Homo sapiens: one gene and its partners. The protein of the gene in region 1 interacts with the protein of each later gene in a biochemical or structural test. Each region holds a gene or a part of one and is shown on either strand. Other genes may lie near its edges. The genes, in order: LRRK1, MTG1, LMAN1L, CKAP2, ODF2, SNX21 and KIAA1217.

The links.
Region 2: the proteins of LRRK1 (region 1) and MTG1 form a complex in vitro, tested with the Homo sapiens proteins (one large-scale study listed by BioGRID).
Region 3: the proteins of LRRK1 (region 1) and LMAN1L interact on a protein array, tested with the Homo sapiens proteins (one large-scale study listed by IntAct).
Region 4: the proteins of LRRK1 (region 1) and CKAP2 form a complex in vitro, tested with the Homo sapiens proteins (2 studies listed by BioGRID and IntAct, with this or other methods).
Region 5: the proteins of LRRK1 (region 1) and ODF2 form a complex in vitro, tested with the Homo sapiens proteins (2 studies listed by BioGRID and IntAct, with this or other methods).
Region 6: the proteins of LRRK1 (region 1) and SNX21 form a complex in vitro, tested with the Homo sapiens proteins (2 studies listed by BioGRID and IntAct, with this or other methods).
Region 7: the proteins of LRRK1 (region 1) and KIAA1217 interact on a protein array, tested with the Homo sapiens proteins (one large-scale study listed by IntAct).

Annotation. Positions count from the first base shown.
Region 1 is NC_000015.10:101,069,357-101,072,856, reverse strand, and holds part of LRRK1 (leucine-rich repeat serine/threonine-protein kinase 1), read right to left. Parts: 3' UTR 1-3,500.
Region 2 is NC_000010.11:133,397,157-133,400,656, reverse strand, and holds part of MTG1 (mitochondrial ribosome-associated GTPase 1), read right to left. Parts: intron 2,223-3,500; coding exon 2,142-2,222; intron 1,488-2,141; coding exon 1,431-1,487; intron 1,129-1,430; coding exon 1,038-1,128; intron 1-1,037. UniProt on the Homo sapiens protein: Plays a role in the regulation of the mitochondrial ribosome assembly and of translational activity. Displays mitochondrial GTPase activity.
Region 3 is NC_000015.10:74,811,482-74,815,634, reverse strand, and holds the start of LMAN1L (protein ERGIC-53-like precursor), read right to left. Parts: upstream 2,801-4,153; 5' UTR 2,781-2,800; coding exon 2,606-2,780; intron 1-2,605.
Region 4 is NC_000013.11:52,461,978-52,465,477, reverse strand, and holds part of CKAP2 (cytoskeleton-associated protein 2), read right to left. Parts: intron 3,116-3,500; coding exon 2,911-3,115; intron 184-2,910; coding exon 13-183; coding exon of another isoform or gene 4-12; exon of another isoform or gene 1-3. UniProt on the Homo sapiens protein: Possesses microtubule stabilizing properties. Involved in regulating aneuploidy, cell cycling, and cell death in a p53/TP53-dependent manner.
Region 5 is NC_000009.12:128,480,006-128,483,505, forward strand, and holds part of ODF2 (outer dense fiber protein 2), read left to right. Parts: intron 1-207; exon of another isoform or gene 208-811; intron 812-1,574; coding exon 1,575-1,646; intron 1,647-2,810; coding exon 2,811-2,882; intron 2,883-3,500. UniProt on the Homo sapiens protein: Seems to be a major component of sperm tail outer dense fibers (ODF).
Region 6 is NC_000020.11:45,840,288-45,843,776, forward strand, and holds the end of SNX21 (sorting nexin-21), read left to right. Parts: exon of another isoform or gene 1-18; coding exon of another isoform or gene 19-171; intron 172-351; coding exon 352-1,026; 3' UTR 1,027-1,550; coding exon of another isoform or gene 1,551-1,669; 3' UTR 1,670-1,745; coding exon of another isoform or gene 1,746-1,756; 3' UTR 1,757-2,989; downstream 2,990-3,489. Other genes in the region: ACOT8 (acyl-coenzyme A thioesterase 8), read right to left, coding at 1,551-1,669, 3,240-3,434. UniProt on the Homo sapiens protein: Binds to membranes enriched in phosphatidylinositol 3-phosphate (PtdIns(P3)) and phosphatidylinositol 4,5-bisphosphate. May be involved in several stages of intracellular trafficking.
Region 7 is NC_000010.11:24,474,638-24,478,137, forward strand, and holds part of KIAA1217 (sickle tail protein homolog), read left to right. Parts: intron 1-3,500. UniProt on the Homo sapiens protein: Required for normal development of intervertebral disks.

The DNA of each region.
Region 1 (3,500 bases):
GGCGCAGGTGGGCTGAGTCCGAAAAGGGAGTCAGTGAAGGGAGATAGGCGTGAGGCCGTTTTATAAGATTTGGGTAGGTAAAGGAAAAAGGGGGTTTGTTCTCTGGCGGGCAGGAGTGGGGGTGGCAACGTGCTCAGTGGGGGAGCTTTTTGAGCCAGGATGAGCCAGGAGAAGGAATTTCATAAGATAATGTCATCAGTTAAGTCAAGGACCGGCCTTTTTCACTTCTTTTGTGGTGGAATGTCATCAGTTAAGGCGGGGCAGGGCATATTCACTTCTTTTGTGATTCTTCAGTTACTTCAGGCCATCTAGGCATATACGTGCAAGTCACAGGGGATGCGATGGCTTGGCTTGGGCTCAGAGGCCTGACGCACTGTGCTGCAAGCTGCTTTCAAACAAATGCATTTATTATATCTTGGAGAACATTCCAGTCCAGCAGTTAGTGCTGCCTGCCTCTTTGACAGGCTGCAGAGGATGGCACTGTTGCATGTGCAGGAATTTTATGACCTCCCTCATGATAGAGGTTGGGGTTGCTTCCTGTTTGGGGCCATATTCTAAGAGATGCTATAGTGAACATCCTTGTTCTGTATCTTTGGGCACTTTTACCAAGATTTCAGGACCAAATACTTAAGTGGAACTGCTGGGTCAGAGGGTATGTGCATTTGAAATTTTGGTAGATAAGTCCAGAATGCCCTCCAAGGGGTAGCCTCCAACTACCCCCTCGTTAATCCACCCTCCATTCAGCAAAGTGAGTTGTAAAGTTGACTGAATCATCTAATAATCCTGCTTAAAACTGCCAGGAGCTTCCGCGGAGACCCCCACTTGCAATTCTGTGTGCACAGTCCCCTCCTTCAAGGCCGCAGCCACGCCAGGCTCTCCTGTCCCTCCCACACAGTGGCTTGAACCCACAACAGGGTCTTTGCATGTGCAAGGCCCTTGCACCCAGTGCCCTCAGAGCTCCATGGAATGCCTTCTTCCCATTCCTCAGTCTCACATTGTACCTCCTGGTGCAGGCTGCAGGCCTCGCCAGCCTCAGTCAAATGTAACGTTCCTAGGCCAAGCCACGAATTGCCCAACTGGGTGGTCCGGCTGCCCTGCTATCTCACTTGTTTGTGTGCTTATTGTCAACTCTACCTATGAGGAGTGAGCTCCTAAAAGCAGAGATTCGGCCAGCGCAGGTAGCTCACACCTGTAATCCCAGCACTTTGGGAGGATGAGGCGGGCGGATCACCTGAGCTCAGGAGTTCAAGACCATCCTGGCCAACATGGTGAAACCCCGTTTCTACTGAAAATACAAAAATTATCCAGGCATTGTGGTGCACGCCTGTAATCGCAGCTACTCGGGAGGCTGAGGCAGGAGAATTGCTTGAACCTGGGAGGCGGAGGTGGCAGTGAGCTGAGATCGCGCCATTGCACTCCAGCCTGGGCAACAGAGCGAGACTCCGTCTCAAAAAACAAAAACAAAACAAAACAAAAAAAACACAGAGATTCTTGACTGTGTCTCCGGTCACAGTGCCTGACACTTAGTAGGTGTTTAAGAAGGAGATGCTGGCTGGTTACCACCCTCTGCCAACATGAGGGTGGTAAGTGACATCTATCTGAGATGCCTGTGGTCCAGCTGATGTTGACAGGGTCCTCAGGGTGCCCCCCACCCCCTCACTGAAGCATGAGCTCTTCTACACCCGCCAGAGGTCACTGGGCAGAGGCCAAAGTTGCAGGGACCATGCTGAATGCTGGGCCCATCCCAGCAACATTTTACTGTTGTGGAGACTGTTTCCCTGCTGTTGGGTGAGGTCAAGCATTGATGTTTAAGGGTCTGTCTGTTTCTTTGTAATTCAATTGCTGCCCATGCCCTTAACCTGTTTGCCTTTCCGGTTTTCTGTTTCTTATTGACATTACGAACTCTCTGTAATGAAGATAAGTGAGGTCTTTGTCTCTCATTTGTGTTGCAATGTTTTTTTTTCTCAGTTGCTAGTCTTTTAGGCTTTGGACTAATTTTCCACGTAAGTTTCAATTTCATGGAGTCAAGTTCATTAGTCATTTCCTGTATTTTTTTTTTTTTTTTAAGAGTTGGGTCTTGCTCTGTCACCCAGGCTAGAAAGCTGGTGTGATCATAGCTCACTGTAACCTCCAACTCCCAGGCTCAAGGGTTCCTCCTGCCTTGGCTCCTGGGTAGCTGGGACTTTAGGCCTGTATGATTTCTAACTGTGATGTGATGAGATCCCCTCCCCTGGCTCTGTGAGGCCTGGGGCTGGGCTTTTCCAGGAGTAGGAGAGGGTGAATTTTGGTGCCTGCAAAGCAGCCTGGCCTCGCGTGATGCCAAAGCAAAAGCTTGGGGCCTGGGGCAGATGGAATCTGGCTTGCATCTGGGGGTTAACTGGGCAGTTGTGGGGCACTGGAATGAGAGGAGAGGGAGAGTGGGACTCCTGAGACCCTGCTGTGGGATGAGGGTGAGAGAATGGCAGGGAGGTAGACAGGAAGCACAGACCCTCAGCCCCCTGGGACTTGGTGCCCAGGTTGGTAAAAAAAAAAAAAAAAAAAAAAAAAAGAGTGGGGGGACTCGCTTTTTCCAAGCCTGTGACTGACAGAGCAGCGTCTCCACCCATGGAAGCTGCTCAGGGGCCACCTGCATGTTGGCACAGTGGGCAAGGAGGGGCTGCCCATTATCCCCAGACAGCGAGTGGGTCTGGGAGGGACTGAGCCCGTGCTGTGGTCATAAGCGCTCAAAAGACAGAGGCCACAGCTTCGTTCTTGAAAGAATCTGTTTATTTTGAGATTAAAAGAGTCTCATCTCCCTGCATATCCAGCAAATACTAAATTTGATCTTTTTAATTTTAGAAAAGGGTCAACAAACTTCAGCTGGAGTATGATCTCTCTTTCAAACTCCCATTCTGGTTTAAGGAGCCCCAAAGGGTAACTCTTGACAAAAAAGTGGCTATGTTTGCACATGTGTGTGCATATGTGTGTGCATGTGTGTAATGCATGTGCATAGTTTATAAAATGTTTGCTGTTGTATCCATAAATCCCCTGTGGACAACGTTCCTTTTCGTACTCCGCTGTACACGTGTGCAGTGAATGTTTAGCAAATACATAATTTGGTATAAATCCCATACAATGTGATTTCACAACCAGAAGCCTGACTGCTGAGATATTACTGAATTTTTTAAAGTGATAAACAAGATTATTATGTGCAAACAAACAGGGCCTGTGCTCCAGCTGCGTCCAAATTTACTTGACAAAGCTATAAACACAAGGCCCTTTCTGAAGTCCTGCTGATTGAGTTTCCCCTTCCTTTTGTCGGTGGAGAGGAATGTAAAGGCTAAGCGGGTGCACTCGGACTGTGTGCCTCTGGGCTTGCTGGCGGTGGCACTTAAAGGAACTCATTCATTCTCTGGATGGGGCAACACTCCTCACCCGGGATCCCCCAAGGGCTTTCCCACACGGAGACCTTCCCGAACACAGAGACATCTGATCTTGGCTTGCCCAAGCTGGCCCAGGCC
Region 2 (3,500 bases), on another chromosome or scaffold:
TAAAAAATAATACGCTTAAAAATAAACTTAAAAGAATAAATGACTGTAACAATGCTCCAATTAGCACCAAAAACACCCTCTCTGTAAAATAACAGTTCACCGTAGTTTAAAGCCTTCAGATTTGCACATCATGAATGGGTTTGTTAATAAATGCCTTATTAATATGAAAAATGAAGCCAACAAGGACTTGAATTAAACTTGAAAATACTTAAGGAAAAGAGCCCACGGGGCAGTGAAGGGTGCTCGGGGCTCCTGCTTTGAATCAGAGTCTGAGAACAGGCACAGAGGGAGGAAAGGAGCGCCTGCGACTCCGGAGTCCAGGAACCCTCCAGCAAAGGCAAGGCGGACGCCATGGAGGAATGGCCTTGCAGCCTCCCTGCCTGATAATCCAGCCCCGTCTACTTCACACGCTTTGTATTCTCTGGATCAAAGGGATTTTTTTTCTTTTCTTTTCTTTTTTTTTTTGAGACGGAGTCTCGCTCTGTCGCCCAGGCTGGAACGCAGTGGCACAATCTCAACTCACTGCAAGCTCCGCCTCCCGGGTTCACGCCATTCTCCTGCCTCAGCCTCCTAAGTGGCTGGGACTACAGGTGCCCGCCACCACACCCACCTAATTTTTCGTATTTTTAGTAGAGACGGGGTTTCACCGTTTCAGCAAGAATGGTCTCAATCTCCTGACCTCATGATCCGCCCGCCTCGGCCTCTCAAAGTGCTGGGATTACAGGCGTGAGCCATGCACCCGGCCAAAGGGATTTAAATAAATGAACAAATATCAAAGTTTAGAAAAGCCATCTTCATGTTAAAGATTTTAAAAGAGAGAAAAATTAAGTGTGAAATTCACAGAACGACCTGGTCCCACTGTTCAGCCCTCCTGTGAACTGGACTGAACGAGACAAGATGTGCTCTGGGGCTGCGGGGTCAGCAGAAGACTGGCAGTGCTCCTCGGGCACGTCCCCTCCAAGAAAGATGGTGGCATCAGCACATCAGCCACACGCGCCAGTACCTTTCCTGAGGTGATCAGCCGCACGCGCCAGTACCTTTCCTGAGGTGCTGCCTCCGGAGGGAGTTGATGAGGGAGGACTTGCCCACGTTGGGGACCCCAATGACCATGATACAGTACTCCAGGTTCTGCGCAGGCAGAGAGAGGGGTCACAGGGCCCACCGTGGCCGCTAGAGCCTGAGACTCTGCAACCCCACCCAGGCAAGGGGACCCCAGGCCAGGTCAGCTCAGGGAAGAAGGGAGGTTAACGCCGAGGCTCTGCCCACCCAGCGGGGACGGCCTCGGCCCTTTCCACTGAAGAGAATGAGAGGACAAAGGAGGGGCCTCCCTGCCTGGGGCGCTGCGCCTTCTCCTTGGAGAGGCCAGGCAGGAGGGGCTGGCCCATCCCACGCCCGCCTCCCACTCCCAGCTCTGGGCCCCACCAACCAACCTCTTTTCGGTGGTAGCGGTGGCTTCTCCCAATCAGTTCAGTGACCATCGGGATGATCTGCAACAAACACCCACTCATGGAGCCACCCCAGGTCGGACGTCTGTGCACTGACCCGCTCCTTCTGCCACCTCAGAACAGGATTAGGGATTCCAGTGTCTCCACTTTCACATATCCGTTAGGAAAACAGAAACCTCCTATCTGGAATTCTACCCAACATTTCATAGGCAAACTGGGCGTCACCCTTCATCTGGAGGTAGCACACCAAGTATCCGGTGTTGGGAAACTGGAGTTCTGTCCAGGTCACAGATGTCAGACTGAGCTCTGGGGCCGGGGACCACCTATGCCCGTCCCCTCCCATCAAAAACAAGCAGGGCAGACCCGGGGCTTCAGTGACAGCTGTAACTACCTTTTAATGAAGAAACACATCAAGCCAGAAAATTCTACCACATACAACTGGAAACATGAGCTACCTGAGTCTCCAAAAGACTCTGACCACCTACAACCCTGGAATGCGTCTACAGCCTGACCTTGTGCCCTCAGTACAGGGAGACCCACTTGCCCCAGGAGATCGCATCCGTGTGTGGCAGCTGGAAACCAACACCTAGGATCTTTTCCAAAGCTCTGCTTCTTACTAAAGCATAAAACAGTTTATAATGCTCCTCGAACCTACTGAAGCAGAAGCGTCAGAGAGAGCACAGACGAAAAGCCTACCTGCTTGACATTTTCATCCTTTACACAGTTGGTAAAAATGACATTTTTTAGGCCTTCTCCTTCTAAGTGTTGCATAATTTTCTGAAAGACACAAAACATTTCTATGTTACTTTTTTTACTGGAGTCTTGGCTCTGTCACCCAGGCTGGAGTGCAGTAGCACAATCTCGGCTCCCTGCAACCTCCGCCTCCCTGGTTCAAGCGATTCTCATGCCTCAGCCTCCCAAGTAGCAGGGATTACAGGCATGCGCCACCACGCCCAGATAATTTTTGAATTCACTGGCCTTAACATGCAGTGAAACTAGTGCAAAGCAGTATCATATTTCTAAACATCAGTGCTGTTAATCATCTGACCTAAAGTATGACTGATGTTTAAATCAACAAGTCCTTCACTGATTCAGCTGGTTTTATTTAGCTGTCCACGAAGATGACACGGATGGAGAGATCAAACATAAGACACACACCTGAAGCCACACACTCTGGGTAGTAAATGTACTTGGGTGTCCCTGCTCAGGGAGGCAGAAGGCAGGGCCACCCAGGGGCAAGTCTACCTCTCTCCCGATTCTTCAGAAGCACTGGCCTTTCTCTGACCAGGTCAGACACTGCTGTGCCCTATACTAGACGGCCACCCACCAGTCTACAAAAAGTCACATTTTCAAAGGCAGGAGTTGCCACTGATATGACGTAAAAGTACCAACTAGTGAAAACACTTGCGATGATTTAAAAAAAAAAAAAAAACAGGCTGGACGCAGTGACTCACGCCTGTAATACCAGCACTTTGGGAGGCCGAGGCGGGCGGATCATGAGGTCAGGAGATTGAGACCATCCTGGCTAACACAGTGAAACCCCGTCTCTACTAAAGATACAAAAAATTAGCCGGGCATGGTGGCGGGCGCCTGTAGTCCCGGCTGCTCAGGAGGCTGAGGCAGGAGAATGGCGTGAACCCGGGAGGCAGAGCTTGCAGTGAGTCAAGATTGCGCCACTGCACTCCAGCCTGGGCGACAGAGCAAGACTCTGCCTCAAAAAAAAAAAAAGAAAATAAGACACAAGACAAAGAGATAAAAGAAAAGACAGCTGTGCCTGGGGGACCACTACCACCAAGATGCAGAGACCGGTAGTGGCCCCAAATGTCTGGCTGCACTAATATTTATTGGATACAAAGCAAAAGGGGCAGGGTAAGGAGTGTGAGCCATCTCCAATGACAGGTAAGGTCACGTGGGTCATGTGTCCACTGGACAAGGGGCCCTTCCCTGCCTGGCAGCCAAGGCAGAGAGAGAGGGAGAAAGAGAGACAGCTTACGCCATTATTTCTGCTTATCAGAGACTTTCGGTACTTTCACTAATTTTGCTACTGCTATCTAA
Region 3 (4,153 bases), about 26 Mb from region 1:
GGCCAGAGCTTCCTGGTGGACAGGACCTAGGGGGCATTCCAAGGTGAGGAAAGCAGGAAAGCAAAGATGTGAAGGTGAGAACCGGCCCACAGGACTGCGATGAAAGAATGCAGGATGGAGTATGTGTGTGAGAATTGCCACTGGCGGTGGTGGGGCGGGGAGGAAGGAGCCCTGCATGGTAGGAAAAAGGAATGGGAGAGAAACTGAGGCAGTCTTGGCAGGAACTGGGGGCAGGGAACTCAGAGGCCCTACTCGAGCTCGCTCCCCACCCTCCAACCTGCCAGCCTGGAACCTGGCCCAGGGCCCAGACTCTGCCAGGACGTTCTGGAGGCAGCTAATCCAGCCTGTTTGCTCTATAAAGGCCAGGGATGGGGGTAGGGAGGCTCAGAGCTGCAAGGCCACAAGTCCCAGGGCCTCTGGAAGCTGTCACTGCCTCTGAAATCCTTGCAGAAGGCTTTCAGCCTTACAAGGCCTGTGGGTGAGACCTTGCCCCAGACCATGGGCTCCTTCAGCCTCACTCTGCCTGGTATCTCTGGGCTGGGCACAGAGGAACATCAGGGTGAACGAATGAATGAACAGACAATGCACACATCACTGGGTGATCTTGGAGAAGGTGCCTCTGCTCCCTCACATGATCTGTGACACCCAGATTTGGCAAGGCCCATAGCAGTGAGTGTTGTATAAGTTTTGCCATCCTGGTCCTGAAGCAGGGCCCAGCTTGGTGCTGTGAGAAACAGCCCACCTTTTTGTTACCTCCTGTGTCTCTATGAAGGAGGACTGGAAGAAACCCTACTGACAGGGCCTATCATCTTAAAGGAATATTTTGGGCTGGGCGCGGTGGCTCATGCCTATAATCCCAGCACTTTGGGAAGCCGAGGCAGGCGGATCATCTGAGGTCAGTAGTTCAAGACCAGCCTGGCCAACATGGTGACAACCCGTCTCTACTTAAAAAATACAAAAATTAGGCTGGGCGCGGTGGCTCGCCTGTAATCCCAGCACTTTGGGAGGCCAAGGCGGGCGGATCACGAGGTCAGGAGATCGAAACCATCCTGGCTAACAAGGTGAAACCCCATCTCTACTAAAAGTACAAAAAATTAGCTGGGGGTGGTGGCAGGCACCTGTAGTCCCAGCTACTCGGGAGACTGAGGCAGGAGAATGGCATGAACCCAGGAGGTGGAGCTTGCAGTGAGCCGAGATCACGCCACTGCACTCCAGCCTGGGCAACAGAACGAGACTCCGTCTCAAAAAAAAAAAAACAAAAACAAAAACAAAAATTAGCTGCGTGTGGTGGCACACACCTGTAATCCCAGCTACTCAGGAGGCTGAGGCAGGAGAATCACTTGAATCTGGGAGGTGAAGGTTGCAGTGAGCCAAGATCACACCACTGCACTCCAGCCTGGGCAACAAGAGTGAAACTCCATCTCACAAAAAAAAAAGGGATATTTTGTCCTGGCTTTAGTTAGGAATCGTGCCATTTCTCAGAACTCACATCTTTTTTTTTTTTTTTTTTGAGCCAGAGTCTGGCTCTGTGCCCAGGCTGAAGTGCAATGGCAGGATCTCAGCTCACTGCAACCTTGGCCTCCCAGGTTCAAGCAATTCTCCTGCCTCAGCCTCCTGAGGAGCTGGGACTACAGGCGCACGCCACCACACCCAGCTAATTTTTGTATTTTTAGTAGAGTCAGGGTTTCACCATTTTGGCCAGGATGGTTTTCAACCTCTTGACCTCGTGATTCATCCGCCTTGGCCTCCCAAAGTGCTGGGATTACAGGCGTGAGCCACTGCACCTGGCCAAGAACTCACATTTTATAGACAGAAATCCACAGCCGATCTGCTTTCTGTCTTTGCTTTGCCTGCTAAGAGGCTCAGAATTAAATCCATGGCCCAACTCTCAGGTGGACAGACCTCACAGCATATGTTTTGGAAGCCATGCTCCTAGACTATTTCACGCTCCACTCTAATCCTCATTGTTCTTGCTCACTCCCTCTATCGTGTAGTTCCATCATCACAAACCCTTTTTTGAACAAGATCTGGTAGAAGACACACTCTTTGTAGGTCTGGGTTTGGAAGTCCCTGAATACAAACCTATGGGCTAAGATGCTCTCATGCCTGCTTCCACCCACAACACACATACAGGGAAGGGCTGGTGCCCACTCACCTGGGATGAGGATGCTTCCCTCCAGGTAGCCCCCAGTTCTCATGGCCAGCCACAGGCCCGCTGGGATGGAGCCGGGAGAGTGGAGGTTTGTGCTGGTCCACATTGCCTTCTGTGTGCCTGGGACTTAGTGTGTGAGCATGTGTCTGTGTGTTCACAGGTCAGAGGTAGAGGAAGGGCAGGGGTCCAAGGAGAGGCAGAGGAGAAGAGAGAAGTCCTGGGGCAGGGAAGCAGAGAGGCAGAGGAGAAACAGCTTGGGCAGGGGTGGGGGGTGTTGAGGCGGTGGAGCAGGAGACAAGCCTGGAAGGGGTCCTGGGGTGCCTGGCACTGTCCCAGGCCTTGCCCCACCCTGGACAGAGGATGGCTGTGACAGACCCACTCCCCACCAAGTCACAGCCCCTCCAGCACTTTGAGGGACCCTGGGCATAGCTGGTCCCCACCCCTGCCCCTCACCTCCATGATGGCTCCAGAAGGGTATTCCAGCCCCAGGCAATGCCAGCCTTGGGCCTTTGAAGCTGAGCTTGTACTCAAACCTGCGTAGAGGAGGACACCCCGTCTCAGGGCTGTGGGGGTCCAGGAGCAGGAGGAGAAGGCAGAATAAGGGACCTGGACCACTGACCGCCGGCATCGTGAAGGCGCCTGAAGTCTGGGCCCCGGGGTAGATCATAGCTGGGAGGCCGGGGAGGGGATCCTGGGATAGGGCCAGGCAGGGAGGAGCTGGGGACTGGCCAGGAGCTGGGTTTTGGCACTGTCCTCTCCCTCTATCTCCAGCATAGACATCCTGTTCCTTCCAGGCCTGCTGTCAGGCCCCGCCCATCCCTCACCTCCAGTCTGACGTGGGCAGCGGGACCCCACGACAACCTGAGCTCTGCCCCTGCTCCTGACTCAGGCCATCTTTCTGTCTCCCATCACTTCCAGCAGTTGGATGCGGCAGAGGGGAAGGGGGGGTGCCCAGGGTTGGCCCCCACCCTTCAGCAGCCCTGGCCTCCCCTCCCAGTTAGGGAGACAGGCCTCCACATTCTGCCTGTGTCCCCCAGCATGGATGGCACATCTATCTGGACACCCATCCTTCTCTCCTCCCTGCCCCCTCTCTCCCTCTCCCGAATTCCCCCAGGCTCATCCTTCCAAGCAGCCTGGTTTCCTCAACAAAAGCATTACATGGAAAAAAGAAGGGAGTCTTTAGAGACAGCACAAAAACGCAACGTGCAGACCTTGTTTGGAGCCAAATTTTAACCCAACTGCAAAAAAAAAAAAAGATATTGGGGAAATTTGAACAATGGATATTTTTGAACAATGGATATTTGACTATATTGAGGAATTGTTAAAAATTTTAGGGCACTGTGGCTCATGTCTGTAATCTTAGCACTTTGGGAGCCCAAGGCAGGTGGATCACCTGAGGTCAGGAGTTCGAGACCAGCCTGGCCAACATTGTGAAACTCTGTCTCTACTAAAAAAAAATACAAAAAATTAGCCAGGCCTGGTGGTGCATGCCTGTAATCCCAGCTACTTGGGAGGCTGAGGCAGGAGAATCACTTGAACCTGGGAGGCAGAGATTGTAGTGAGCGGAGATTGCACCATTGCACTCCAGCCTGGGTGATAAGAGCAAAAATCCATTTCGAAAAAAAAAATTGAGAACTAATATGGTATTGTGGTTATGTTTTTTATTTTTTATTTTATTTTATTTATTTATTTTTTGAGACGGAGTCTCGCTCTATCGCCCGGGCTGGAGTGCAGTGGCGCGATCTTGGCTCACTGCAAGCTCTGCCTCCCGGGTTCACACCATTCTTCTGCCTCAGCCTCCCAAGTAGCTGGGACTACAGGTGCCCGCCACCATGCCTGGCTAATTTTTTGTATTTTTTAGTAGAGATGGGATTTCACCGTGTTAACCAGGGTGGTCTCGATCTTCTGACCTCGTGATCCGCCTGACTTGGCCTCCCAAAGTGTTGGGATTACAGGCGTGAGCCACTGCGCCTGGCCTTTTTTTTTTTTTTTGAGAGGTGG
Region 4 (3,500 bases), on another chromosome or scaffold:
TTTTTATCTTACCTGAGCCCCTGCCAGAATGGCTTTCTCATAGATTGCAATAATATTTTCAATAGGACTTGTGATTGGTTCAATAAGTGCAAGACATATCCAATACTTAACAAGCTTTTTGGCATCTGGAATATTTTTAATCAGGTCATTCAGTGTGACCAGTATATCTTCTTTTGGACATCCCTAAAAAAGCAAGAAAAAATGTGTGTAATATTTTTTAGCTTACAAAGTGGGAACAATAATTGAGCCTACTATAGTCAAGATCAATGATAACGATAGCCCTAAGCATAAAGCAAAAAAATGAAACATTAGTTGAGAAATTTATTAGTAAAAAATGAACACTTATTTGATCTTGATTTTATCCTCATATATATTGTGGGATTCCATTTGTTAATACCTTCTACCAAATGTTTATGAGTAAGAATAGTCTGCGGAGTTTTTTTTCCTCGTCTTTATCAGGTTTTGATATTAAGATTAAAATGAATCTGTAATGGTTTATGTCACAGTTACATATAATTAAATAATAGGGCAGAAAAAGTTCATAGTATCAAAAGGAAAAACTTAAACTGAGCAGAAATAAACTCTAATTCTATTCTATTAGAGACTCAAGAGTTTTCCTGATTGTAACTTTTACTGGTGTTCAGAACCACAAGAAGTTAAAAGATGCTCATGAAGAGTAAAGTTTGAAATCATACCTTGAATTCAGTTTTGCTGTGGATCTTACACACTAGTGGGTGACCAAAACAAGATTAAAGAGCAGTCAGGAAACAAAGATATTATCTATTATTAAACAGAATATTGTTCTGGAGCTGATTATTATACTCCATAGGATTTTGGTCCAAATAGCAAAATTCTGCAATAAATTCAAAAACATGATGATGTTGGCTTAGATGAATGGGATTGTTTTTTTTTTTTTTTTTTTTTGAGACGGAGTTTTGCTCTTGTTGCCCAGGCTGGAGTGCAACGGCACAATCTCGGCTCACTGCAACCTCTGCCTCCCAGGTTCAAGCGATTCTCCAGCCTCAGCCTTCTGAGTAGCTGAGATTACAGGCACCCGCCTCCATGCCCAGCTAATTTTTGTATTTTTAGTAGAGACAGAGTTTTACCATGTTGGCCAGGCTGGTCTCAAACTCCTGACCTTGGGTGATCCGCCCGCCTTGGCCTCCCAAAGTGCTGGGATTACAGGCGTGAGCCACCCCACCTGACCAGATGAATGGGATTTTTTTTTTGAGTATTTTAGGTAACTTAATCTGTGATAATAATGACTCACACAGTATTTGTGTTGCTAGTCTTTGGTAAAATGTGTAATGAACGTAAAAAATAATGTGTAAATATAATGAATAGATGTAAGAAACAAAATATTAGAAGCAGTAAGTAAATATCACCTCAGTGTATTACATATTAATTAGCTCAGAGAAATCAAATATTTGTAATTCAGTAAAAAAACCCAATTATCCCTTTGATACAGGTTGAGTATCCCTAATCTGAAAATCCAAAATCTGAAATCCAAAACTTTTGAGTATCAACATCACAATGCAGATGACCATCATTAACACTGCAGAAAATGTACCTACAGGCGACAAGGTGAAAGTATGCAACAGGCTTACTGAAGAACTAGAGCAGCATTTATCCAGAACAGAAAAAGAAATCATGTCCCTTTATAAAATCAAAGAGAAACTTCTAAGACAAAAACCATTGCTAATGAGGCAGATGACTCTGAAGTAAATATCTTAAAAAGCCACCCAGCAGAATGCCTCCTTATCCCTAGAGAACCCACTTCCTGGTCCCTCAACTGCTTCTGGTGTTTCTTCTCACCTAAAAAAATAAAACACGGTGTAAAATACCTCTTAATTAAACACAACATCATAGATGGAGATTGAAAACGTGCTGCTGTTTGTTGTTGCTATTGTCTAACAGCTGATACAGGCGTTCTGATGATGCTACTGTGCTGCTTAATTACTCTGAACATATTTTTCACTGTATTAATGTGTCTTTTTTTAAACTGTTAATTAATTATGTGTGAATAAATGTAAGAGAATAATTGCTTATTGGTAGCATGGAAATTCAGAGTGAGGAATGATGGTGTTGCCAAACAACCAGACTGTCCCATGGGTGGCTGACAAAGTGACACCTTTGCTTTCTAATGGTTCAATGTATACAAACTTTGCTTCATGCACAAAACTATAAAAAGTATTCTATCTTTAGGCTACGTGTATAAGCTGTATATAAAACATGAATGAGGCCGAGCGCAGTGGCTCACACCTGTAATCCCAGCACTTTGGGAGGCCGAGGTGGGTGGATCACATGAGGTCAGGAGTTTGAGACCAGCCTGACCAACATGGTGAAACCCTGTCTCTACTAAAAATACAAAAAATTAGCCAGGCGTGTGGTGCACACTTGTAATCCCAGCTACTCTGGAGGCTGAGGCAGGAGAAGGGCTTCAACCCAGGAGGCAGAGGTTACAGTGAGCTGAGATCACACCACTGCACTCCAGCTTGGGTGAGAGTGACTGTCTCAAAAGCAAACAAACAAACAAAACGTAAATGAACTTTGTGGATCTCATCCCCAAGATAACTCATTATGTATATGCAAATATTCCAAAATCCAACAAAAAACATCTTCAATTACTTCTGGTCCCAAGCATTTTGGATAAGGGATACTCAACCTGTATATTTATATGAACTCAATGCAAAATGTAGTCAGTTAAAGGCTAATAAGCTCACAATTAATGAATGAAGCAGTGTATCTCGCAATTAAATAATTGTTAAAATAACCTCACAGTTAATGTTAAGTCAACATAGTATCACCAACATCACCTGGTCAAAAAGACTGACAATATAATTTAATGAAATAATGCTTATGAAGGTAATTTGCAAACTATAAAATGCTAAGCAAATATAAAGACTCTACCTCATTAATCAAGTTCAGGCATTCAGAAAATGTGTTGTTTACTTTTTCAGTAAATAATCTTTGTTCATCTTCTTCTGCCATGGTAGTCCAAAAAGACCCAACTGGTTTTTCATTTTGTCCTGCAGGCTCATGCTGAGTAACTACTGAATTAGGGGGCCTTTTTAGCACTCTTCCTTTGCCAGCTTTCCACTCACTCAGACGAGCTCTATAGTTAGAAGCAGATATAAACGTTACTTTGAAATTGCTGACAGAACTCTGTCAAATAAAGTTAAAAGAAAAAATCATATTTTTAAGTAATCTTACTTTAATGGCATATATAGTTCACAAGCTTGAAGAAATATTAAACATATCAACGTCAATTATGCTCAATGATTCCATGAATGCATTTTTTGATTTGAGATTATAAAGTATTTCCCAATTATTATTAAGCATTTACCTTAGATTTTAAAAAGCAACCTTATAAAACATACTCAAACACAAAAACTTTTAGGTCATATTGTTCCACAATATAAATTTGCCTGCATATGACAGAAGAGAAACCATGAAAGAAAATTCTAATGCAGTCAAGGAAATTATAATCCAAATCTACA
Region 5 (3,500 bases), on another chromosome or scaffold:
CAGCTACTGAGGAGGCTGAGGTGGGAGGATCACTTGAGTCCAGGATATCAAGGTTGCAGTGAGCTATGATCCATGATTACAACATGCACTCCAGCTTGGGTGACAGAGCTAGACTGTGTCTCTAAAAGAAATAAAAAGGTTAAAATGACAAGTTTTATGTTACATATATTTTACCACAATTTTTAAAAGTTAATAATGGAATATACCAAAGCCATTTAATTGTATACTTTATTTTTTCTTCTAGCTTTATTGAGGTATATTTGACAAACAGAAGTAGTATACATTTTAAGATGTTCATCGTGATGATTTGATACCCATATACATTGTAAAGTGACCACCTCAATCAAGCTGATTAACACATCCATCACGTCACATGGTTACCTTTTTGTGTGTGTGTGGTGACAACACTTAAGATCTCCTAGCAGATTTCAAGTATATAATACATCATTAATTATAGTCACCATGCTGTACACTTTAAATGGTGTTCAAATTTATATCTCAATAAAGCTGTTTTTAAAAATCAAGTAACAGCTGGGCATGGTGGCTCACGCCTGTAATCCCAGCACTTTGGGAGGCCAAGGCGGGCAGATCACCTGAGGTCAGGAGTTTGAGACCAGCCTGGCTAACATGGTGAAACCCTGTCTCTGCTAAAAATACAAAAATTAGCCGGGCGTGGTGGCAGTTATCTGTAATCCCAGCTACTCGGGAGGCTGAGGCAGGAGAATCGCTTGAACCTGGGAGGCAGAGGTTGCAGTGAGCCGAGATCGTGCCATCGCACTCCAGCCTGGGGGACAAGAGCGAGACTTCCTCTCTAAAAAATAAAAAAAATTAAAAAAAATTAACACATAAATACAATATGATATTATTTTCCTAAAGTTACACATGAATCCCTTTCCCCTTCCCCCAGAGACAAACAGTATTTCTCTTGATGCAGCAAAATGCTGTTTCATTACAGAGAAACAGTATTTCAATACAGTATTCTGTACAGTATTTTCAATACAGAGAAATACAGTATTTCTCTGTAGATGTAGAGAAAAAGGATGGGAAGGATACTCCTCAAACTAATAGCAGTAGGGTAGGGTTTGGAGGTGGGTACAGGAGGAACTGTAGCTTTATTAGCATTCACTATTTTATAGTGAGAATATATTCACATTACTTTTCAAATTAGAACTACAGTTTTTTGGGCCAGGTGTGGTGGCTCACACCTGTAATCCCAGCACTTGGGGAGGCCAAAGCAGGCAGATTGTTTGAACCCAGGAGTTCAAGACCAGCCTGGGCAAACAGGGAGACCCTCCAACTCTACAAATAATAATAATGTTTAAAAAGTTGGGCATGGTAGTGCATGCTTGTTGTTCCAGCTACTTTGGAGGCTGAGATGGGAGGATGGCTTGAGCCCAGAAGGACCAGGCTGCAGTGAGCCATGATTGCACCACTGCACTCCAGCCTGGGCAACAGAGTAAGACTCTAAAAAAAAAAAAAAATACAATTTTTGGAAAAGGTAAAGAATCAATAAAATGTAGACATCTGGGTTTATTGCTTAATGACTTGACTTTTTCCTTTGCCTTTCTTTGAAGGATTCTGAAAGACTAATGGAGCAACAAGGAGCACTGCTGAAACGGCTGGCGGAGGCCGACTCAGAGAAAGCGGTAACTAAGGCTGCCCTTGTCTACTCTAGTGGGTACAGGTGGCAAGAGCGTCGTTCCACTACAAAGTGTAGAGGTGCTTGGATCAAGGCAGGAGGGCTGGAGCATTTCGCTAGGTCTTAGTTTCACGATCTGTAAAATGGGCTGATGTCCTCCTGTCACGCTTGTTCTGATAGGCTTGTCTAGTTAGTTACTTGAGACCTTGAGCCACAAAGCTGGACACCAACATAGAGAGGGTAATGATGATGTTGGATTTGTAAATCATCCGTGTCTGTTAAAGCTGGATTTCCATCAAATTAGTATTATGGATTCAAAGCCATCAAAAAGTACACACCTTTGGACTCAGTAATCCTAATTCTAGGAATCTCTCCCAAAGCAGCATGTTCCAAAGTCTGTTCATGGAACCCTAAGTTCCTCAAGATGTTAATGAGTGCAAGAAACCGAAGGGGAGGTTCCATAGCCAGTTAAATTTGGGAAACCATAGGCTGGCCTGAACATGAAGTTCAACAGCTTCTTTCAAGACTTTTTTGGAGTGTCTGCTGTATTAATGCTTTTGTAAGTCTCCAAGAGAGGGGAGGGAGACGGAGGCCCAGTTTCCCAAGGTGTGGTCTGTGGCCTCTGATGCTTAGTTGAGGAAGGAGTGGAGATGCAGCAAGCTCGGCGATAATGCCTAAATGTGCATTCCCAGCTCAAGAACCCTTGTTAAGTTATGATATACATCAGTAACTTGAACCGTCAAGCAGCTCTTTCAAAAGACACAGAAGATTTAATCACATTATGGTAAACATGAGCTTTTAGGCTATGGAACGAAGTAGGCATATGACTTTTTTTTTTTAACGGTGCTGAGCATATGAGTTTCAATGTGCATTAACTGGTTATCTCTGCATGGGGGGTTACGGGGTTTCTTTGGAGGATTTTTTTGGTGTGTTCTCAATGTTTTCTACAGTTAACATTGCTGTTCTTAAATTGCAAAATAAATACATGTTCATTGTTTTAAAAAAATGTTTTAATGCATATGTTAGGTGCTTCCTACCAGAATCTCTGACATGGGCCAATGTATGTAGGACCTTGGGCCCCAGTGGCCAGGTACTCACAAATCTCTGTCCTCCCTGGGCCGGGCCTCTTTGCCCTTCCCAGGGGCACCTGACAGCCTGTGTTCTCTCCCAGCGCCTGCTGTTACTGCTGCAAGACAAGGACAAGGAGGTGGAAGAGCTCCTTCAGGAAATACAATGTGAGAAGGTAGTGTGCTTTTTTTTTTTTTTTTTTTAGACGGAGTCTCGCTCTGTCGCCAGGCTGGAGTGCAATGGCGCGATCTCAGCTCGCTGCAACCTCTGCCTCCCGGATTTGAGTGATTCTCCTGCCTCAGCCTCCCGAGTAGCTGGGACTACAGGCGTGCGCCACCACGCCCAGCTAATTTTTGTATTTTTAGTAGAGACGGGGTTTCACCATGTTGGCCAGGATGGTCTTGATCTCTTGACCTCGTGATCTGCCTGCCTCGGCCTCCCAAAGTGCTGGATTACAGGCATGAGCCACTGCGCCCAGCCGCAGTTGTGCATTTTTATGAGCCAGTAGAATATAATGGATATGCAGAGAGCTGGGTTCAAATCCTGTCTTTGGGCCGGGTGCAGTAGCTCATGTCTGGCACTTTTTCGAGACCAGCCTAGGCCACTCCCTAGCACTTTGGGAGGCCAATGCAGGAGGACTCATTGAGGCCAGGAGTTTGAGACTGTCCTGGGCAACACAGGGAGACCCCATCTCTACAAAATTAAAATTAAAATTAAAAAATCAGCCAGGTGTGGTGGCATGCACCTGTAGTTCCAGCTACTCTGGATGCTGAGATGGGAGGATCACTTGAGC
Region 6 (3,489 bases), on another chromosome or scaffold:
TGGCTGGGGTTTCAGCTTATGTCTGGTTTTCCAGAGGGGGCTGTCAGAAGAACTAATGCTCTATGGGAAGGGAGTACAAAAAAAGGGGCAGCAGCCCCGGGCACTGAAGCTCATCTCTGTCTTTCTCTCTTCTTGCTGCCTTGGGCCTGGGTCATTTCAGACAAACCTCAGGTAAGATGGGACTGGGCTTCCCCGCCACTGCGCAGCAGCTCCCGCCCTCCTGGGTGCTGTCCCAGGGGTGAAAGGAAGAGGTGGGGAGGTACAGCTGGGAGTGTGGGGGATGGGGAAGGATGGGGAGGGAACGGGCCCGTGGACAACTTGCATTTGCCCTGACACCCACCCTCCCTGCAGCTCTACACCCTCGCCGTGATCGGCCCAGGACCGCCAGATTGCCAGCCAGCCCAGATCTCTCGCCGTTACTCGGACTTTGAGCGGCTGCACCGAAACCTGCAGCGGCAATTCCGGGGCCCAATGGCTGCCATCTCCTTCCCCCGTAAGCGGCTGCGCCGGAATTTTACTGCAGAGACCATTGCCCGCCGTAGCCGGGCCTTTGAGCAGTTTTTGGGTCACCTGCAGGCAGTGCCTGAGCTGCGCCATGCCCCGGACCTGCAGGACTTCTTCGTGCTGCCGGAGCTGCGGCGGGCACAGAGCCTCACCTGTACTGGCCTCTATCGTGAGGCTCTGGCACTCTGGGCCAATGCCTGGCAGCTGCAAGCCCAGCTGGGCACCCCCTCTGGCCCAGACCGCCCCCTGCTGACCCTGGCTGGGCTGGCCGTGTGCCACCAGGAGCTGGAAGACCCTGGAGAGGCCCGGGCATGCTGTGAGAAGGCCCTGCAGCTGCTTGGGGACAAGAGCCTCCACCCTTTGCTGGCACCCTTTCTGGAGGCCCATGTCCGGCTCTCCTGGCGCCTGGGCCTGGACAAACGTCAATCAGAGGCTCGGCTCCAAGCCCTGCAGGAGGCAGGCCTTACCCCCACACCACCCCCCAGTCTCAAAGAATTGCTCATCAAGGAGGTGCTGGACTAACCCTTGCCTAGATTTAAGGCCACTGTGAGGAGAGGGGTTGCCCCAGAAGGCAGGGGAAGGACCTGATGAGAACAGAATAGCTGGGAGGCTGCAGAGGGTGCTGGGAGCCCCTAGAAGTTCCAAAAGAGAATGTGAAGCAGATCAAGGAAACTTCTGTTGAGCTAGGCTCAGGGTGAGCTTTGGCTGGGGTTGCCCTTGTGTAGTACAGGGAAGTCTGACACAGCCTCTCCAGCCTATAAACAGCCGGGGGGCTGTGGCACAGGTTGGGGCAATGTTCCCTTGTTGGTGGGCCCCCAAGCTGGCAAGGCCTCTTGGCTGAAGGCCAGGGACTCTGCCCCTGGAGTCCTGGAGTTAAGGGATGAAGGCAAGGCTGCAGGTCTGGCCCAGGGGAATTAAAAGCCAGCCACTCCAGTGGTATCAGTCTCTTTATTGGATGTGAGGGCCAAAAGGGACTGTAACTCCTGTCTCAGGAATGGGGATAGATGGGAGGTTCTTGAAGCCCCAGGCGAAGCTGGTACCTCTGGCTACAGCTTGCTCTCTGAGACCTGGGGCTTCACTCGGATCACGCCCTCCTGGGCACAGGTCACAGCTAGGACTCCATCCTGACGCCACAGCCGCCCATGGACCAGCCCCCGAGAGCCACCTGTGGGTGAGGTGAAGGGTGATGATGGCCTGCTTCAGAACAGCCAAATACACTTTTTTTTTTTTTCCTGAAACAGAGTCTCACTAAGTTGCCAGGCTGGTCTCAAGCGCCTGGGTTCAAGGGATCCTCCCGCCTCAGCCTCCTGAGCAGCTGGGATTACAGGCGCACATCACCATGCCCAACCTCCAAGTGGACTTCTTGCAAAGGGTCTGGCCCAGGGCAGGGCTGCCCCACACAAGGGTGCACTGAGTGTCGTGGCTGCTCCAAATGCCCCTTCATGAGCTTATTATGGACCGTCATTGAGGGGTAACTCCTCCCACAGGAACCCCAGTTGACAGTTTAAAAGCACTTTCACACCTCTCCTCGCTTCCTCAAAAAGATCACAGAGGGAGGAGCTCTGAGAACAGTCTCCTTCAACAGCTCGGCCAAGCAGAACTGCTGTACCTCTGACCACTTGTGTTAGGAAAACTATCGGCTCCCTGTATAATAAATCAAGCCAGGTCCTCCAAGTGGTAATTCATGAAAAATATCCCCACTACCACCACCAAGGGGAAGAAAGGACTCAGAAGAGAGGACTTGAGGCCATGAGGTCTGGCCTCTTCCCTCCCCATCTGGAGACTCTTTCTCCCTTGCTGGCTTTGGGCCCAAGTTTGATGTTTATGAGGATGATTGCTGGTTTCCCTTACACATAGCAGAGCTCACTCAGTTCTCACAGTAGCCAAATGAAGCAGTTATGTGTTGTCCAGTTTTCCAGACCAGGACTGAAATCCAGAGAGGGTCAGGAATTTGGCCCCATGATGAAGCCAAATCTGAACCCATGTCCTCACTTCAAGGTTATCAATCTTGGATTGTGATGCTATTGGTACTTGAGAATACCCCTTATCTGAGTATAAAGAATCCTTGAGTTTTGTCCTTGGTTTATCAAGCAAAGCTTTTCTTCATTTGAAATGTACTCCCTTGGAAAGGAGGTCAGGGTTCTGAAGCTAGACATTGATGAACGAGTCTTGTTTCTCTCCCCTGCAAGGAAGGTCCAAGCAGGCCCTTAGGGACCACTGAATGCCCCGATCCCAATCAGGTTAATCAGAATCACTTAGAGAACTTAAAAATACAGTTTCCTGGACCTTATCCAAGACCTACTGAGTGAGAATCTTGAGGGTGGAATCAGAATCTATTTTGAAAAGGCATCCCCAAATGGCAGTCTGATGGACTGCGGGTTTGGATACCACTGCTGTAATGTAACCCTCTTTGTTTAGATGAGGAAACTGAGGTTCAGATGGAAGATATGATTTGCCTATTGTAATACAAAGAATCTGAACTGGTTTTGGGACTAGAACTGGGTCCCTGGGAGAAGGTGAATCACATTTCCAGCACATTCTAGAAATTTAGAGCAGAGCAGGTGTCCCGGCCTCACCCTCTCATTTTGAAGATGAAGATGCCAAAGCCTGGGAGGGAAGGAAAGGAAGTGACCTGTGCAGCGCCACACAGGAAGTCGGGAAATCAGCATCACCCAAGAAAGCAGGCTCCTGCCACTCAAGGTCAGTGCCCTTGTCCCACACGGCCCCACACTCACCGGCCCAGGGGCTCTCGCATTCATAGAGCATCCAGTGGTCAGCTCGGAAGGGGGCGTGGAACCACATGGAATGGTCCAGTGAGACCATGAAGTGCACCTTGTGCTGCCACTGGTGAGGCAGCAGTGCAGTGCCCAAGAAGGCATAGTCGGAGATATAGGCGGCCACGCAGCAGTGCATCTTCATGTCGCCCTCGCCTGCAACAGGTCCCCATCAGCCCTGGGCTCCTGGGCTTTCCAGCTCAGGACCTGC
Region 7 (3,500 bases), on another chromosome or scaffold:
ATCAGCAAAATTTTTCCAGGGAAAGACTCTCTGGGGACTTGAATTTCTTTTTAAATAGACATATTTTATAATTTACCAATTCAGAAGCTTCCTACTCTATCTTGAAAACCTTCCAAAGTTCATATAGTAATAGAAAAGCTAATTTTGATAAAGGGAATTTCTCTAGCCTGAATTGGTTGAAACAAGTCAACATAATAATCATAAAAATCTAGCCAAAGAAATTGAGTCCAAAGAAGGTTTAAGCATGCTGCTACCTATTGTTATATATGAATCAAGGGGTATGAAAAATAAGATGTCCAGGCCAAGTGCAGTGGCTTACGCCTGTAATCCCAGCACTTTGGGAGGCTGAGGCAGGTGGATCACCTGAGCTCAGGAGTTCTAGACAAGCCTGGCCAACATGGTGAAAATCCATCTCTATTAAAAATACAAAAATTAGTCGGGTGTGGTGGCAGGTGCCTGTAATCTCAGCTACTCGGGAGGCTGAGGCAGGAGAATCACTTGAACCTGGGAGGTGGAGGTTGCAGTGAGCCAAGATCGCACCATCACACTCCAGCCTGGGGGACAAGAGCAAGACTTCATCTCAAAAGAAAAAAGAAAAATAAGGTGTCTAGATATTCAGTTATTCAATACCTTATTAGAACCACTGCTTCTCACTAAAAAATGTTAATATCACTTACTATTATATACCATGTAAAAAGAAGGCCAAAATTGTGAATGGAATGTGACCTGTCTACCTTACTGTTTTCACACACAAGTCAGAAAGCCCTGAAGTCCTCTTTAGCACAGTTTTATTATGAAAGGGCAATCCCTTCTTACTTGTTCAGTTACAGGGAATATCATAGCAGAAAGATTCCAGGAGACAGAAAGAGAAAGAACATGAAAGTTCTGGGATCATTAATGAAACAAAAGTTCTAACTCTCTCATGTAGCTAGAATAACAACAACAGTGAATGGCTTGATGATGCAGGACTAAGAAAAAATAAGGATTGGAAAATAGTATTCATTCTCTCCTTTCCAAAGTCCTCATGAAGTGAAATTCTAAGCATCAAAGAAAGGGACTCTTCCCGTCACTGCAGACAGCTAAGGGGTATAGGATAAACACTCATAGTGGTTCATGGGAACAGACCAATGTGACATCTGGAGAGGAATCTACCAAGATGTGCGATAAGTCTTGGAAGCCTGTGTTGCATACTTCACAGAAAGGATAACACACCTGTCCCCTTTGGCAGGCTTTGAGGTGCTGGTTGGGAAATGGTATGTTGCTGAGGGGATGGAACTTACGGGAGCAAGAATTTAGACCAGAAAACAATAAAGATAATTTGTCTCCTGCATATAATGTTGAGAGCCAGAATCCTACCTCCCACACTGACCTATCCTAGATAAAAGAGCATCAGGAGCTTGATTTTGCCATGACCATATTGAACTGTTTCCACCCCGGTTCTTGGATGATAAAAACCTGAATTTGCATGAAAACAGATTAGTTTAGATGTAATATTCTTTTGGGAATAGTGCTGAAATTATCAAAATTTTTGGCCAACCAAAGATGGTGTCTGCCTTCTTTCCAGAACCTAGCTCAGTGTCATCTGTGTGATTACCACGCACACACAACTTAATGTACATCCTTGAGCCTCACTTTTCAAGACGTTTAGTTATGGAGAGAATAAAACAAACCCTCTGCTGACCTGTGGAGTCATCTCTGTATGGGATCAAAATCTTGAAAGATTTTAGCTTTTGGTACTATGGGTATTCTTTGAGAGCCTCCACTCCCTTTTTTAAAAAAGATCTGCCAACCCTAGAGACTTCCATTTTGTAAAATTTCAGAAAATTCTATGGACTTCAGTTTTACATGTTAGAAAACCTTTTTAGAAAATCCAAATTATTCTATTTCCAGATTAACAATATAAGAAAAACTGACAAAACAGATGAATATTCACCTAAAATACAGTCATTATCACCAGTGTATTCTGACATATGATTGTAATTATGAATGTAATTTTACATGTTCACATTTTTCATTCCCCATAATGTAAAATAGCACAGGAAAAATTTTATCTCATACATCTTGCCAAGGTGACTCCCCACCTGTAATCAGCTTATCTCCAGAGGGTGGAATTGGAATGCTTGGGTATATGTGGGCCGGTTAGATTCTCTTTTCCTAGAGACCTGCACATAGACACACAGACACACAGAGACACACACATACCACATGGACACACAAAGACACAGACACACACAGACACACGACACACACACAAGACAGACACACCTACACATTCTCTCTACATTTAGACTCACTATTGCTGAAAGACCTAAACACTCCCCGCTAACTCCCCTCAGTCACATGTCAAAGGTGAAGAATAATTCTCTGGTCAAAAGAACTTGAGTCTGGAACTTTTGCCCTCAGCACTCCTACATGCTTCCCCCATTGTTTCTTACATGGGACAAAGTGACAAGGGTGAAGCTCATGCCATACTTCCTCCTCCAAGGACAGCTCAGAATCTGGCCCTGAACTCTTTTAGATATCTTGGTAACTAGGCTGACATGTAGCATTCCTGGGGAATGTATAGGAAGGAGGTGAATGGCACCTATCATTTATTGAGAGCCTTTTATGAGCCAAGCACTATGTGAAGTGGTTTCTATACATTATATGATGTAATCATCATGACAACCCAGTGAGATATGTACTATCATCATCTCCTTTTTACAGATGGAGAAACTGAGGCTCAGAGAGGTTAAGTAACTTGCCCGAGGCCACAAAGCCAGTAGGTGGCATAAAATGTCCAGGACTATTAAAGAATTCTACATATTCCATGCTGTTTACCACTGTGCAGTATTCTGCCTTGCAAATGAGAACTATAAGCCCCACCTCCACACAACAGAGAAGTTAATTCAGGAGTGAATTCTAAACATTTCAACCAGAATTCTTCAAAAATTGTTTCAGGACTAGATGCTAAGTAACTGCTCCTAAAGGATATTTACAATCATAAACACAGTAGAATTTGCATAATTATGCTGCTAAATATACACATGCCATTTTAAATATAACTGCCCTAGCTAGTATATTAGCACAATTATGCAGAAATAGGGGAAGAAAGAGGACAGCATTCTTGGTAGACTTCATTTTTTTAAATGCATCTGAGTACTATGTCAAAGAAAAATGTTAAAAACAGGAACATCAGAAACAATTACCGAAGCACAAAATTATAATCCATTGTCTCATCTATACCATGATGTTATTTAGAAATGCTTAATCTGTGTAAGTATTGTTAAAGAATTTTCAACCCCTTAAAGCTTAACTTCATGAGCACAGGGTCGTATAAAGAACCAATCCAATTTCTGTTGCAATTTCATAATATTAAAAAGCAAATAAATATGAGAGTGTTTTTCATATGAGAGTCTCAAGTGACATTTTACATCGAAGATGTGAAGCTGCAAAAACACCAGTGGGAGGCTGAGAAATCGGTGGCTGTGCTTTCTGTTGGCACTGCTGGGTTCTTATGC